3 separate regions of the Homo sapiens genome follow, and all the other regions are linked to region 2. The links come from fine-mapping of genetic effects on gene expression. A gene starts in region 2. Each other region holds a variant in brackets. All regions are shown on one strand. Distances are from middle to middle. Region 1 overlaps PANX1 (pannexin 1). Region 2 holds the start of HEPHL1 (hephaestin like 1). Region 3 overlaps HEPHL1 (hephaestin like 1).

What was found. PIP is the estimated chance that this variant, and not a neighbour inherited with it, causes the effect.
Region 1: its variant is the best candidate, but not a certain one, in a credible set for the expression of HEPHL1 in kidney cortex (GTEx, PIP 0.52).
Region 3: its variant is the best candidate, but not a certain one, in a credible set for the expression of HEPHL1 in sigmoid colon (GTEx, PIP 0.76).

What each region holds. Positions count from the first base shown.
Region 1 is chr11:94,137,445-94,143,126 of GRCh38, forward strand. All of the region lies in intron 1 of PANX1 (pannexin 1), which reads left to right. Among named protein-coding and RNA genes, the nearest start is that of PANX1, 11 kb to the left of the region's middle. The variant C/T (reference allele first, on the strand shown) is at 3,356.
Region 2 is chr11:94,018,807-94,024,488 of GRCh38, forward strand. It overlaps HEPHL1 (hephaestin like 1), which reads left to right and starts at 2,548. Exons shown (of 20, transcript NM_001098672.2): 1 at 2,548-2,732. The coding sequence starts at 2,563.
Region 3 is chr11:94,079,577-94,085,258 of GRCh38, forward strand. It overlaps HEPHL1 (hephaestin like 1), which reads left to right. Exons shown (of 20, transcript NM_001098672.2): 10 at 2,842-2,992. Among named protein-coding and RNA genes, the nearest start is that of PANX1, 46 kb to the right of the region's middle. The variant C/T (reference allele first, on the strand shown) is at 3,341.

The DNA of each region.
Region 1 (5,682 bases), 120 kb after region 2:
GTCAAACCCCTAACTGAGGCAGCGAGAGCTTGGTCCAAAGTGGAGAAAGGGAGGCAATTTGGGGGCATTTGCCCTGGCTAAGCTAGGAACTCTGGGCGAGGCAGGCCCCGCTGCATGCTGTGGGGTTTCTGGGGGCAGCAGGGAGACATTAGTTACTTGGGGAGAAGGGGGCCTAAAGAGAATCTACCATCTGCTTGGTACCAGGCACACCTAGTTCTGTGGGGGGTGAAAGGGGTGGTGGGGAGGGGACGCTGTTGTTTTTTAATAAATTCTCTATAAAGCTCACACTCCTTTTTAAAATATAAATATTTATATATGTATATTATATCATTATAAAGATAAAACTTACTGTAGAAAATATGGAAAATACAGAAGAGAAAATAGCAGTACATCTATAATACTACCAGGGATAACTACTATTCTTGAAAAACCAAACACTAAGTCAAGGCCATGTTACCATGTTCCTAAATTGTTGTACATGATTTTTTTTGTTGGCAGTGACATGGAATGTTGTGCACGTGTCAAAATTTAACTGTTTCACAAGTTTTGTAATATAAATAGCATTGTGAAGAACACTCCTGTACATAATAAACCACCTCTCTAAAGATCTCAGTATTTCAAGTGATTGTATAATTCTAATTACAAGGTCAAAGTATACATAGACATTTTTAAGATTTGACTGGTGTGGTTGGGTTGCCCTCTGGATAGACCCCCAATGGATACTTCTCCCCGCAGCTGAAGGAGTGGCTTTCCCCACAGCTGGCAAAAGTTAGTGGATTATCGTCCACAGCTTAATAGGTGAACAAAGGTGTGCCATTGTTTTAAGTCGCATTTATTCAGTTACGGCATTGAATGTTTTTTCGTATGTATTTTTTCCATTTATATAATTCTGTGAATTGTCTGTTCTTATCTTTTGCTTATTTTTCCAAGGGGATGTTGGTTTCTCAATGGGTTTTATTAACTATTTCTATGTTTCAAATATTTTCTAGCTAGCCTTTATTGTATTTTCTTTTCCGGTTGTCCGTTTCCTTTGAATTCTGTTTATGTTAAGCATTTTTGTTTTTTAATTTTTAATTTTTGTTGGTATGTAAAGGTATATATTCATGGGGTATGTGAGATATTTTGACACAGGCATACAATGTGTAATAATCACATCAGGAGAAATTGGGTATCCATCTCCTCAAGTATTTATCCTTCGTTACAAACAATCCAGTTGTACTCTTTCAGTTATCTTAAAATGTAAAATTAAATTATTATTGACTACAGTCACTCTATTGTGCCATCAAATACTGGATCTTATTCATTCTATTTTTATGCCCATTAACCATCCCCATTTCCCCTGACAGCCATCCCTCAGTAACCTTTACAGTATAAGTTTTGATAAGCAGAAGTTATTTTAAGTCATCAAAACTACCCATCTTTTAATTATTTCTTCAGTTGCATTATGATTAGACTGTCATAGCCCATCCTTAGGTCTATCAGTTTTTTAAAATGATCTTTAATGATTTTATTTGAACATTTACCTCTACAGTCTGTTTTGTTCTTTTGGTGCTATAAGTCAAGACTCTAGCTGATAATCCCCCCATTGTCATTTATTGAGGAACCCGTTCGTTATTCATTGATCCTTGATGATTTCCCAATCATATAGTCAACTCAAGTAAGTGAGCCTATTTTTGGGCTGTTTATATTGTTCCACTGGTCTATTAATTTTCATGAAAATACCAGACCATCCATTTTGTCACTGCTTTCATACTGGCTTGTTTTTAGATGTGAGTAGATACCTAGGTAAATTAAAGTTATAAAATATTAGAATCATGACAGGGAAACTGAAGCTCAGCAATCTAAGTGAGTGACTTGCTTGGCACCAATTGTCACATCGCCTTAGCAGATTAATTTCTCATAATATATCAGATATTTAAAAGGCTCTTGAATTATAGGAAGAGCATCATTATCAGCAGGATCCTTACTGGAAACTTGTCAGGCTATCTCACTATTGGACCTTTTAAAATATTGTAGTTATGAGGAACACTATTTTGATATATAATAAATATTTATTTGGTCTTTGGTTTCCCAGCACTCTGCTGATGAGGTCACTGATGGCAGTGGTCTCCTGGATAGCCTTGTGAGCCAGGCTTGTTGCCAAGGGAACCAACTATGTGATTAGAGGGTTGAGACTCTCAGCCCCAACCCCTGACCTCACGGGAGGGGAGAGGGCCTGAAGCCTGAGTTGATCACTAGTGGCTCATGATCTAATCAACCATGCCTGCATAGAAACCCAGGGAGAGGGTTCCGAGGGCATCCACGTTACATCCACGCTGGGAGGGTTGTGCATCCCAACTCCATGGGGACAGAAGCTCCTTCACTCAGGACCCTTCTGAACCTCGCTCTGTGTATCTCTTTACCTGTCTGTTCATTTGTATCCTTTAAAAGATCCTTTTTCGTAAATTGCCAATAGTAAGTAAAGGGTTTGCCTTAGTTTGTAAGTCACTCTAGCAAATGAATGAACCATAGGAAGGGGTTGTAGGAATCCTCAATTTATAGCTGGTTGGTCAGAAGTTCTATTACTGCTGTTCTTGTAATTGTGGGAAGCTGTAATAAATAATGGATGGGCTAAATAGAGTAGAAATGCTTTGAAAAAGATTACAACTTCCAGATCGGTTCAGAAAGTGGTGAATATTTCAGTATGAAGGATAAATAGGCTATACATGGACTTGGTGCTTCAGCTAATGAGACAGGCCCATTCATGGGTACCCCATGGCTGTCCTGGGGTGCTCACTGCATCAGCCCCAGGAGGTCCCCTCACCTTACTGCTGGTGTGGCAGTGGAGGGAGTTTTCCAGGTTAATTTTAATTTGCCAAATGTCTATATATGTCGAAGTTCAGACAGTAAGAGGAAACATTAAAGCCCTGCCCTTTTTTATGGACACACCTCAATCTCAGTTTCTTCCCCAGAGGTAACTACTGTTCCTGTTTAGTGCATATTCTTTTACAGTGCTCATTTTTTTGCAGTTTGCTCATTTATCTTTAATATGTCCCAGAGATATCTTCATGTTAGTGCATGCAGATCTGCCTCATCTTTTTAAATGTGCCACAATTTTCCATCATGTGACTATACCTCAATTCATTTAACCGTCTGTTTATGGGCTAGTATGTTCATTCCACTTTTTCCTACTACAAACAGTGGTTTAATGAACATCCTTGCATGTGCTTCTTTGTGCAGAATGTGTTTCTCTAGAGCCGTGGTTCTCAAACATTTTGGTCTTAGGACCCCTTTACACCCTTAAAATTTCTTGAGAATTCCAAAGAGATTTTGTTGTCTATTGGTATTTATCATATTAGAAATTAAAACTGACAGA[C/T]TTAAAAATATTTATTAATTGATTTAAAGTAAACCCATTACATGTTCAGGTATAACATATTTTTATGAAAAATAATTATAAAACAAAAACTTAGTAATAAGAATAGCATTATTTTCTATTTTTGAAAATCTACTTAATATTTCATTTCATAGTAGATGACTGGATTCTGGATTCTCATTCATTATGTTGTAATATCCCACATCAGTAGCCCCCAAAACTGCACTGCATACACTCATGAGAGAACGAGAGTAGAAAGGTAAGTAACAACGTAGTATCGTGAACATAGTTTTAATGTCGTGAACCTCCTGAAAAGGTCTCAGGTTTCAGGGTTTCCAGACCACATTTTGAGAACCGTTGTTCTAGTGGGGTTTGAAATCAGAGGGACAAAAGTTGTGCACATTTTAAATTTAAAAGACACTTTCAACTGCCTTCCAGAATACCAGTTTACACTCCCATCACCAATATAGGCCAACCCCGCCCTACTTCTTTACCAATGTTTAATACTTTCAGAGTTTTAAATTTGCCAATCTTAATGGTTAAAATGCCATCTCATTGTTTTAGCTTGTAGTTCCCTATTTACACTGGGATTTCATGAGACACACATTTCTGGGCTCACTGTGACACTTGGCGGTGTCTGGTGACTGCCCCCTCCCTCCCCAGTGCCCACCTTTTTCTTTGGCCTGGGATGTTTGATCCTAGAGAGACTGACAGGTCTCCGCTTGTTTTCCTTGGCTTATGAAATACCCCTTCCTTCTGAAATCCATCTTAACTATTTTTTAATTAATTTTTTTAAGCTAAAATGTTTTTTTCAAAAAACCCTAGTTGTTTCACTTCTGAGCCCTCTGTTTCCTGTTTACATTTAGTCAACTAGCAAATATTATTTATTAGGAAATGTGAATAATGATTAAGGCATGAGTTATAAAGCCAGACTTCCTGGGTTCCAATTCTGGCATGGCACACATTGACTGTGAGACCTTGGACAAGTTACAGAATTTCTCAGTGCCTAGCCTCCTTGTCAGTAAATGGGGCAGTAATAGAATTCTCACCTGTGTCACAGGGTGAGAATTAAATAAATTAGCGCTCGAAGCACTGGAACGGTGTCTGGTACGTAGGAAGCACTCAGCGCAGGTTAGCTGCTAAACATCCCCTAATCCTGTTTTGGCCCTTTGACAGGTGACGACCTGGGGCTGCTGGGGTTGGGGAATGTGTCTGGGGCACACAGAGTGGGGCTAGAGTGCATTGCTCTTTCCAGAGCCTGGGTTCTCAGGCACTGCTGTGTGCTCTCTGCCCCTTCCTGTCGTGTGTCTGCGGGACACAGGACTGCGTGGGGCAAGCTCACAGCCCAGCTCAGAAGCTGCTGGTTTGTGCTGGGTCTCCGGCTCTGCTGCCCTAGGATTATCTTCCCTACCCCTTGGATTCCTGCTGGGGAGGGTGCCTAGTCTGTTAAGCGCCACCACCAACCTCACCCTCAGTTCAGCACTGCAGCCTCAGCTGGTCATTAGGAACATGGGTGTATGGATTATAGTACCACTGGGGACTTGAAAACACAAAACACAGCTCCTCACCCTCACCTACCAAGCCCTCCTTGCCTTTACTCATAAATTTAAGTCTGGACTTCCCAGTCTGTCACCCCAGGATGTCCTTTATCTGACCCCAGCTTGACTGTGTGCTCCAGACACAGTGGTCTGCTTCCTGTCTTAAATGGGCTGTCAGCTTTAAGGACTCAGTGTTTTCTTGCGCTGTTTTCCAAGCCTAGGTTCCCTTCTCTCCTCCTTTGAGTACGAACATTTGTCATGGTTCAGTCATTACCCTTATGTGATTTGTTTTCATCTACAATAATTGGTGGTTTATATCCTTGGCTGCCTCCACTGGACTGTAAGCCCTTGGAGGGCTGAGACCAAGTCTTCTTTATCTTTGAATCCCTTGCATTGCATATGGTACCATGTACATAATAGCCCAGTGAATGCTTTTTGGGTTAAGCGCCACACAGTTGAGCTGAGTGCCTTAGGGAGAATACCTGTGCTCTGTTGCCCCGTGTAGAAACGGGAAGAATGGAGCCCTGGGGAGGGCGTGCTCCTGGTATAAAGGCCATGTGGCATTAAATACCCAGCTCTGATGAAAAAGTGTGGATGTCCCTTTTCTTTTTTGAGGTTCCTTGAAAAAGTGTTTGCCACTCTAGCATCTGCATCTGTCATGAGTTTTTGTCTATTTAGAATGCCCTTGTTTGCAAAGAGATCTCATGACCAGTTGTCTACATAATAGTAACAGTCATTGTAAGTCCTTTTCATGTTGCCAGAGTCACTAATCTTTGTTTCAGTACTGAATTT
Region 2 (5,682 bases):
AGTTCTCTGCTACAAATAGATTAAATGCGTTGACTTCATCTGCTATAGTGACTCAGATTTCTTGACCTGATCTATTCTGCAGATCTAGTTTTTGAATCAGAAGTTAGGTAATGCCTTCTCCTGGGTTTTAATTATATGCGTTCAGTATCTTGGGTAAGAAAGTTAACTCTTTTGTCTTTTTGAGCTGTATCACTTATACCTTTTTTTTTCTCCTGTCCAAAAAGGGGGGAATATGTCCTAATAACGTCTTTGATACGCCCAAAATAGCCAGCTTCTCTGGGATGTAAGCAACAAGATATTTGGTTTGGGACATTTCCAAATTCCACAACCTTTTTTTTTTTTTTTTTTTTTTTTTTTTTTTTTTTTGTGAGACAGAGTCTCGCTCTATCATCCAGGCTAGAGTGCAGTTGTGAGATCTTGGCTCACTGCAACCTTTGCCTCCAGGGTTCAAGAGATTCTCCTGCCCCAGCCTCCCTAGTAGCTGGGACTACAGGCATGCACCAACATGCCCGGGTTATTTTTGTATTTTTAGTAGAGACAGGGTTTCACCATATTCGGCAGGCTGGTCTCGAACTCCTGACCTCAGGTGATCCACCCACCTCGGCCTCCCAAAGTGCTGAGATTATAGGCATTAGCCACTGCGCCTGGCCAGATTCCCCATACTTTGAACTCCCTACTTCTTCTGAGGCCAACCTCAGGCCTACCACGTAAGTCCTCCTCTATAGTGTCCGTTGAAGTGCCAGACTCATACGAAGCTCCCAAACTCATGTTGAAGAGGAGATTTTAGCTAAATGGAAATGTGCTGTGGCAATTATTCTACCAGTGTCCTTGATACAACAAACAAATCAGTAAATCAAAGTTGTAAAGAGCCTGGCTATGAAACAGGATACTCAGTATGTATTTTATTATTTATTTATTTATTTATTTACTTATTTTGAGAAGGAATCTTGCTCTTGTTGCCCAGGCTGGAGTGCAGTGGCACAATCTTGGCTCACTGCAACCTCCACCTCCCAGGTTCAAGCGATTCTTCTGCCTAAGCCTCCCAAGTAACTGGGATTACAGGCGCCTGCCACTACGCCCGGCTAATTTTTGTATTTTTAGTACAGACAGGGTTTCACCATGTTGGCCAGGCTGGTCTCAAACTCGTGACCACAGGTGATCTGACTGCCTTGGCCTCCCAAATTGCTGGGATTACAGACCTGAGCCACCGTGCCTGGCCTTTTATTAATTAAGATGAATGCTAATACAAACTGTGCTATGGGACATTTATAGGGTAGCTACCATTTAAAGAAAAAGAATTCTCTTACTTGAGACTGGTGGAAGGCATGGCAGATAGGACTTTGGCAAAGAATAGTGGAAAGAAAGTTGAAGACTGCGGGGAAACACAAGTCTGTGGATACACAGGTTGATACAGTCTCTCTTAGAGGGCATGAATGGGCAGGAAGGACTTTAACACTTACTTAGTACCTACCCTATGCTAGGGGCTGGGGTAAGCACTTTGCAGACATCATCTTTTAAAAAGTTCCTTAAGAATCCCTCAATCCTTCTTCTATAGTCTCCAGCTCAATGATGTTAAGTGATTCCTCCATGCCACTAAATTGGAAAGTGGTGGGAACTCACATTCAAACCCAGGTCTGACCAACTTCAAAGGCCAGGAGGCTGTTTCCTTCATTCCATGGCTGCTCCCTCAAGAGTAACTGTGCATGGGGATAAGAGTAACTCTTTTCCAAGGTTGATCAAGGTCTCTTTCAATACCGAGATTCTGGGACACAGATTAGAAGACACAGAAGAATGGCCCAGCCTTTTCCACCCAAAGACCTGTTACTGAATTTTGTCTCCATGTGTCTGAAGGGTACTTCCCCATCATCATTTTCATTCATCCTAAGAAAGGCGGCTCCCTGTGTGGAGGTGGTGGCCGCGAACATTTTGGCTGAACTGAGCAGTCAACCTTCTCATTTTTGCTGGAAGGATTTGAGAGAATATGGGGGAGATGGTACACGAGCCAGTGGAGGATTAGTGGGGTTTTATGTTGTTGTGATGAACTTTATGATGTTAGTTTGTGGTTTCACATAGCCTCATAAAACAAGCTGGATGGTGATTATGTCACTTCCTCTGCCCTCCCGACAGAGAGGAGGCCTTCTTTAGTGCCTGGAGTGTTTCCTGATGCTCCACTCAGGCCAGCTCACTTTTCAGATTTTAATGTAAGAGGTGTGGAGAAGAAAAGAAGAAGAAGGGGTGGGGGAAAGCCATCGGCTCAAGTAGTCACACTGTCATCCTGGCTGACAAATGACTGATGTCAGAGCATGGTACCGAAACGTATAGAAACAGGCCTGTTGGCTTGGGCAATACATAAATGAGCCAGTCACACATTTCTCGGATGGCTGGCAAAAGTTTTGTTGTCAAAGCAACGCCCCCATCGAGCTTGCTTTGCTTACGCAAGGCCTCAGCCTTTGCCTCTTCCCCAAACCCAAGCTACCTGAGGAGGAGGAGCTGAGTGAGGGGGAGGGACCAACAGATTTGTCCCCTGTGCAGGCTGCCTGCCTGCTTGAGTTACATCCACAAATGCCTCGGAAGCAGCCAGCTGGCTGCATCTTTCTCCTCACATTCCTGGGTCTGTCTGGGCTGGTTGGCACAGTTACCAGAACGTACTACATTGGGATTGTGGAAGAATACTGGAACTATGTACCCCAAGGGAAGAATGTTATTACTGGGAAAAGTTTCACAGAAGACAAGTGAGTGAACTTAGGGTCCTCATTGACTCCCAGGTTTGGCCTCTTTTTGACTTTGTGTGGGGAAGGTTGTATTTCTTGGGTACTTACAATGGGGGTGAGTTGATCTAGACCAAGAGAAGGTGTTTTGTTTTTTGCTTGAAGAGCCCTAGTATGGATGGGTGTGTAATCTGGAAGAGATATTCATAGCTCCATGTATTTGTTGAGCCACCTATTAATAGCCTTGCCTGTGAAGGGACATATACACAACCAGGTGTTTGACAATTTCCACCAGGTACTACTAGTAACTTCTGGGGGATTCTGTTTGTTTGTTTGTTTTTAAATGACAACACTTGGGATGAAGATTTGAGAAATTTCAAGAATTCCTTATGGTTAAAACACAGTGTTTTCTTAGTTTGTATTTCTGGAATGAAACATCATAATGGGAGATAAGTATGCTAAGTCATGTTTTTCAACGTTTAAAAGAGGGGGAAGTCACAGGAGATTTGCCTGCTATTTTCAGGGTTTCCTTGAGTCTACTTAGAATTAGCGCTTTCACTGGTAAAAAGTTTATTCCAGCTCCAAGTCATTCTTGCTGAGGGCAATATCTTATCCCAGAACCTATAGCATAGCTAGGTGAGATGGCGCCACGGTGTTCTATGTTCCTGATTTTTAATTTGGGGCAGAAAATAACCCTTTCTCCCTGCCCCCTCCAGGGCCTAGTATCTTAACCATCTAATTTGTTTCATGGATCTCCCTCTGAAGTCACCTCCTGACTCCAGAAGATGTCATGCTATTTTCAACTTTGTGGTTATTAGAACATCTTTTCAGATGTTTTGGCAACCTCTGTTGGATATTTGAATGCTTGCTTCTTTTCTGACAGGCAGAACCAGTTGCATTCTGCATCCATGTTCCATTTCCTAAAGATGAGTTTAGTTGATAAAATTCAGGAACAGCACAGGGCCTACCAGCAAGTCTTTAAGAGCCAGGGCCCCTTGTCTTTGAGGAAAGACCAAAGATCCAGTTGGCTTGGAAATACAGCTTCCAAGTTTTCTAACAAAACAAAGGTGGTATAGTCATGTTTTGTTTACCAAAGATGAAGCCTGTGCCAGACAAGCTGCCAAGGCAGACTTTTCCTTAAGCTTTGTACCTGGAAATGTAATGTCTGCAGGGCTATTTCCAAAGGAAACTCTTGATTGCTTTCAATCCCACATCTGCTGACCATTGGTGGTAGTGTCTTTACTGTGATGAATAGCTATGGGATTGAAAGGGTACCAAAAATGCCAGGAGCCTTCTCTACAAATAGAGCTCTGCTATTCTCAGAGAGGGCTCAGTAGGAAACAGTCAATGTGAGCAGCTACTGGGGATAAGAATGTTGAAAGTGTGTACACTGAGTGTAATGAATATAGCGTTTAAGCTAAATGTGATACTGGATTGCCTTTCCATAAGATTAACACCCACAGAAATTCTTCTTCCTAAAATGCCCACGTCACTATAGCTGTGTATGGGCATTTATTCTGACCCAAAAATTCTATGAGGGATTTTTCAATTCATTACTGCTTGCAGATATTATTATTCTCATTTTATGAACCAGGAACCAAGGCTCTGAGGTTAAATACTTGCCGGAGTTTATAAGTAAGTGGTAGCACCAAACTCATTGCTTTGGTTCCACAGCCCATATTTCTTTTCACCACACAATCTGTTTCTTGGTAAAGGTGATCCTTCTCCAGTGAATTAAAACAACTTTGAGGGAAGCCAAGGATCACAGTAATAAGAACTTTCTAGAAAGTCCTAATTTTTGCCAAAGGCATGTTTAGTCTCTTTTGTCACTCTTCCTAGAAGCATATTGAAAGGGATCACTGGTGGTCAGTGACCAAACAAGTTATCTGGGTTAATTCAAAACCTCAAAGAATCATAAATACTCAAGTACTACAATGCTGTTTTCACAAAGTGGGGTGCTGGAAGAAGTTGGGGTCTCTGTTGATCATTTCAACCAGAAGATGGTGCTTTGATGAAAGTACAATAAAACATATAAAAATTGCTATGGTGAAAAAGAAAATAGGCATGATGAAAACAGTTGGTTTGGCATCAGATTTGAGTGAGATGGTTTCAAAATGCATGGTCCCATATGATAGTGCGTTTGTTCTTAGAAGCAGCTGGCATGCTAAGGTGTCATACCTAGAACGCCAAGGTCCCCAAACATTTCTTTCTGGTATGCGAAGGGACAGAGTTTGTGTCAGACAGACTGCTACCTCTTGGAAGGGAAATCCAGGTGAGTATGCAGTGGACGTTGGCTTTTATCAGTGATCCCATCAGAATACTGGTTTTTATCAGTGATCCCATCAGTGCTAGTAGTTGTGGTAGGTGGCTCAGACAAGTTCCTAAAAAGGTAGGGCTGTCGTAGGTGGCTGACATTGCTTGTGGACCACAAGATATCCATCCTGGGTGTATGTGAAGATGCTGTGACTGGGACATAAGTGGAGTTCAGTGTGTGTACTCTGTGTTGTGCCATTTCCCCAGGAGCAGGAAGGAGCCATCGTGGATGATGTAATCATGCCCCTCTCTCAGCCTCCTGGAGGGTGAATAGGCTGCCTTTCTGAGGACAGTCTGTTGTTTTGGATATTCACACTTGGGCAAATGTCTGATATTTAAAGGACCAGGAGAGCCAGGTGCTCAGAATTCCACCATGAATGGAAAGAACCTGAAATAGAAATCCAGAGACCTAACTTCTAATGCTTGCTCTGCCCAACTTGCTGTGTAATCTTGAACATGTCATATAATCTCTCTGAATATCACTTTCCTTAATTTGTGTAAGAAGGGAGTTGAAATGTAATCCCTAGAGTCACTTGAGAAGTGTAATGCCAAAGCATTAGAAATAATTTTGAAACTGAATGAAAAATATCTTTCCTGACTTGCCAGTTCTAGAAAGATTTTTGCAATGGTGAAAGAAAGGAGAGAGATGATTTGCAAATGT
Region 3 (5,682 bases), 61 kb after region 2:
GCTTAGTGGTTTGCAAGAGAAAAGAGTGGCAGACTATCAAAGCTGAGGGAATACATGCATGAAGGACAGAGGGATGCAGAACACAGCAAGTGCAGAGGGTGACAAGGAGCTTGGCCTTGCTTCAAAGTGCCAGGAGGAAAGAGTCAAGAGATGAGGCTGAACAGGTAGGCAGGAACCGGAATACCATTAGATGAGACTGTATTGTCCAACATAAGGAGAGAGATATGGTCAGATGACATTGCTGAGGGTCCCTCCAGAGCATGCAGCAGGATGAAGGTGGCTTGGGTGGGGAGCATGTTAGAGACAGGAAAGCATTGAGGGATAGAAAGGATGGTCACCTCCATTCTTCACAGAATTAGAAACAACAACTTTAAAATTCATATGGAACCAAAAAGGAGCCCATATAGCCAAGGCAATCCTAAGCAAAAGGAACAAAGCTAGAAGCATCATACTACCCGACTTCAAACTATACAACAAGGCTACAGTAACCAAAACAGCATTGTACTGATACAAAGTCAGACACATAGAGCAATTGAGCAAAATAGAGAACTCAGAAATAAGACAGCACATCTACAACCATCTGATCTTTGACAAACCTGACAAAAACAAACAGTGGGGAAAGGATTCCCTATTTAATAAGTGATGCTGGGAGAACTGGCTAGCCATATGCAGAAAATTGAAACTGGACCCCCTTCCTTACACCTTATACAAAAATTAACTCAAGATGGATTAAAGACTTATGTGTAAAACCCAAAACTATAAAAACCCTAGAAGAAAATCTAGGCAATACCATTCAGGCCATAGGCACAGGCAAAGATTTCATGATGAAAATGTCAAAAGCAATTGCAACAAAAGCAAAGTGTGACAAATGGGTTCTAATTAAACTAAAGAGCTTCTGCACAGCAAAATAAACCATCATCAGAGTGAACAGACAACCTGGAGAGTTGGAGGACATCTTTGCAATCTATCCATCTGATGAAGGTCTAATATCCAGAATCTACAAGGAACTTAAACAAATTTAAAAGAAGAAAAACTCATTAAAAAGTGGGCAAAAGACGTGAACAGACACTTCTCAAAAGAAGACATCTATGCAGCCAATAAACCTATGAAAAGAAGCTCAACTTAACTGATCATTAGAGAAATGCAAATGAAAACCACAATGAGATACCATCTCACGCTATTCAGAATGGCAATTATTAAAAAGTCGAGAAATGGCAGATGCTGGCAAGGCTGTGGAGAAATAGGAACACTTTTACACTGTTGGTGGGAATGTAAATTAGTTCAACCATTGTGGAAGACAGTATGGTGATTCCTCAAAGACCTAGAACCAGAAATACCATTTGACCCAGCAGTTCCATTACTGGGCATATACCAAAAGGAATATAAATCATTCTATCACAAAGATACATGCATGTATGTGTTCATTGCAGCACTACTCACAACAGCAAAGACATGGAATCAACTGAAAAGCCCATGTCTTTTGACAGGCTGGATAAACAAATTGTGGTACACGTACACCATGGAATATCATGCAGCCATAAAAACGAATGAGATCATGTCCTTTGCAGGGACATGGATGGCACTTGAAGCCATTATCTTCGGCAAACTAAAGCAGGAACAGGAAACCAAACAATGCATGTTCTCACTTATAAGTGGGAGCTGAACAATGAGAACACATGGACACAGGGAGGGGAACAACACACACTGCGGCTTGTGGTGGTAGGGGTGGAGGGAGGAAGAGCATCAAGATAAATAGCTAATGCATGCTGTGCTTAATACCTAGGTGACAGGTTGATAGGTGTAGCAAACCACCATGGCACATGTTTACCTATGTAACAAATCTGCGCAGACTGCACCTGTATCCCAAAATTTTAAATTAAATTGAAAAGAAAACATAGTCATCTCTCTGGTCAGTTCTAAAGGAAAGCATACTGCAGCGATCTGTGATGCTGTGTGATCAGATAGGCTCAAATAGACTGATTAGGAATACATGCTGTGGGAAGTCATATCCATTGTCCCCTCACTATCCACTCAAGTTAACATAATTTAGCTAAGTCTCGTCAGTTATATGAATTCATTATTTCACTCAAAAATGTATACTTGATGCCTGCTTTTCCAGGCATTTTTCTTGGTGATGCAGGTACAGAGAGGAATCCAAAGTGTTCCTATCCTCATGAAACTCACATTGCAGTAGGAAAAAGTTAAAAAAAATAACTTCATAAATAAAATAGTTTCAGGTGGAGATAAGTGCTGTGAAGAATAAAATAGGGTAAAGTGAGTGAGTTTCTGGGCAGAAGATGGAGATAAGTTTAGAAGGATGGTTAGGGAAGACCACTCTGAGGAAATGACATGCAGAAAAGTGAATTGAGGAAGGGAGTTCTTCAATTCATGTTCCACAACACATGGAAAGACCCTGAGGCAGGAATGAGGTTGGTGTGTTCGTGGAAGGGCAAAAGGCCAGGGTGTCTGGAGCAAGCTAGGAGGTGAGTACAGGGAAATGAAGTCAGAGAGAGAAGCTGGGCCAGGGCTGGCAGGTCAGGGTAAGGAGAAAAAGTCCTTGAGGACCAGCCTGGCAACAGAGGCCAAAAGAGTAGAAAGCCTTCTAAGCAGGGGCTGATTTCCTTGGAGGACGGATGTAACAAGAAAGACAAATTTTCTGAGTGGGGAATAAATTCATCAGAGCAACATTCAGTATCTTTATTTAAAAATGACCTGCGAACTCTTGGGCTGATGTTGATCTGCCCTGACTTATTAATATTTTGTGTGAACTTTGAAGGAAAGCAATTCTGTGAATTCCTCCAAGCTGTACCTTTTATGTATTCATTTCTTTCTTCTCTGTAGAAAGGAATAGACAAGGAGTTTTACCTACTGTTCACAGTCTTTGATGAGAATCTGAGCAGATATTTTGATGAAAACATTCAGAAGTTTATCTGGCATCCCTTCAGCATTGACAAAGAAGATAAAGAGTTTGTGAAATCCAACCGAATGCATGGTATGACAAATGACATTCCCGCCTGTAAATGAAAGGCTGACTTGCATTAGAAGTGAAAATGATTGGTGTGTTTGAATTATATTAATTTTGGTTTCTTGGATATTGTTCTTGGTCATGAGTAAGTTATTTCATGCCTTCAGCTTTAGATGGTATGGTGAAACCTCCCTATCTCTCAGAGATGTGAAATTTAATACTTCTAGAGCACTTTATCAGCCTTAGATGAAGGAACACAAATTTTAAACTAGCGGCCAGGCACAGTGGCTAACACCTGTAATCCCAGCACTTTGGGAGGCTGAGGTGGGCAGATCACGAGGTCAGGAGACCAGCCTGGCCAATATGGTGAAACCC[C/T]GTCTCTACTAAAAATACAAAACTTAGCTGGGCATGGTGGTGCGTGCCTATATTCCCAGCTACTCAGGAGGCTGAGGCAGGAGAATTGCTTGAACCCGGAGGTGGAGGTTGCAGTGAGCCAAGTTCGTGCCACTGCACAGCCTGGGCGACAGAGTGAGACTCCGTCTAAAAAAAAAAAAAAAAATTTAAACTAGCCAAGTTCACAGTATATCATAAATGTAGAAAATTACTGACAAACTACTCTCCCTTGGGTTCACAATAACATTAAGTCTGAAAACCAAAGTGACAATAGGAGATAATCATTACATAGCAAAGTGTCTATAATTAAGTAGTATGAATGATTTAATTAAGTAGTATGAGTGACTGGTGAATGTTAATTTGTGAAACACTAGCTGTTCCTATCCCAGATCTTCATTTGAGAGGAATTACTTAATTCTCTCTCCCTGTCTCTTTGTATCAAGTGTTACAATAGCAAACCACCTGCTAATTGCTTGTGAGTAACACAGGATGTCATTACTCTTAGGCATATTACCTAAGGTAGCAGAGTAATGAGAGTCCAAACTCAATGCCTGCAAGAGTGTGCAGTCAATAAAAGTGCCCGAAGCAAGTAACGTAAGACAACAGGTGCTAACCTGCTTGTTTTAGGACCCAGCATAAAATCTATTTATTGCCTTTTAAAGCATTATGGAAGAATAACAAAATAGCCCTTAACCTCCCTTCCTTGCATGGAAGTAAAAAATAGTCCAAGGTTACAAGTGCCCCATGGCAACCAGGTCACAGACCCTATGGTCCCAGATGCTCATTTCCAACAGAGTCCCCTCTTGTGCCAATGGAAAGCATGGAGTAGTACATTTCAGTGTCATCTTCTACAAAAGGTTTTGCTGTAACTGAATATGAATATTGTTTCCAAACTTCTTAGTAGACAATATAAAGGGGAAATTAAGGTGGAAATAAGGAAATATAGCAGTTTCTTGGTGGAGAAACTAAATTGTAAAAGAAATTTATCATCAAAGAGGTTGGTCTTCATTTAAAAAGATAATAAACAACTGAATGAACTACATCAAATCCAGCCCCACCCTATTTTGGCAATGTGAAACTACTTTCATATTTAGAAATACAATATATAGTCCAGGCACTGTGGCTCATGCCTGTAATCCCAGCACTTTGGGAGGTCAAGGTGGGAGGATCACTTGCATCCAGGAGTTCAAGACCAGCCTGGGCAACTTAGTGAGACCCCATCTCTACAGAAAATACAAAATTAGCCAGGTATGGTGGTGTGCACCTGTAGTCCCAGCTGCTACTCAGGAGGCTGAGGTAGGAGGTAGGAGGATCTCTTCAGCCCGGGAGGTTGAGGCTGAAGTAAGCATAATGGCTCCACTGCACTCCAGCCTGGGCAACAGGGTAAGACCCTCTCTCTGTTTAAATAAATAAATAAATAAATAAATAAATAAATAAATAAATATATAAATACAGGATATATCATTGTTAAAACAAAGTTCAAGGCAAATAATGCATCTTAATTCAAATGTCACATTAATTATAAACTAAGTTCTAGCTTCAGTCTTGCTTGCAGGGAGTGGAAGGAAGACAGCAACAAAGCCAAAAAGAAAGGGCCTGACATGGTGCACAATGCTTTGTGTTGTGTTTATTATATAGTCTGTATTCAAAATATGTTTATTGAAAGAAAGAATGGATGAGTGACTGTTGTAGAAAGAGAGGCTTTAAACAAGCATTCCAAGGCAAGAGAAGATTCTCTACCAGCCAGCCAAGGACTGAATTTATTAGCACCTTGATTTATACTCAGATTTCATTAACATTTGATGGACAAGATTTAGATCATTTATTTGCAAAGACATTATCAAAGATTTTTTTTTCATAAAATGTGGTGTCCTTCTCAGAAGTGCCAGAATTTCTTGGAATTTCTACCAATAATCCCAGATCTGAGTACAATTACCAAGCACCACTGGTTTTGCAGACACAGAAATATTAGGATAGTACAAAAGTAATTGCGGTTTTTGCAATTACTTTCAATGGCAAAAACTGCAATCACTTTTGCACCAACCTAACAAAAAGTAATTTTATTTGACAATGGGATTATAACAGAAGGTCACTCATGTGCATGATAATAGTTCCTTCCTGCTATAGGCTTAGTAGAGAGCAGGAGGGGGGTAGAAATATTTATTTCTCCAAGAAACATCAAGCATGAGACACAATTATGTGCATTTACCAGTCAGACATTGCGTTATATCATGGCTTTCATCCCCATGGGGTGAGAATGCGGTTTCTAAATTCTTGTCAAGGCACTTTTTCAGATAGCCACTATCAATGGATTGGGGTTGATG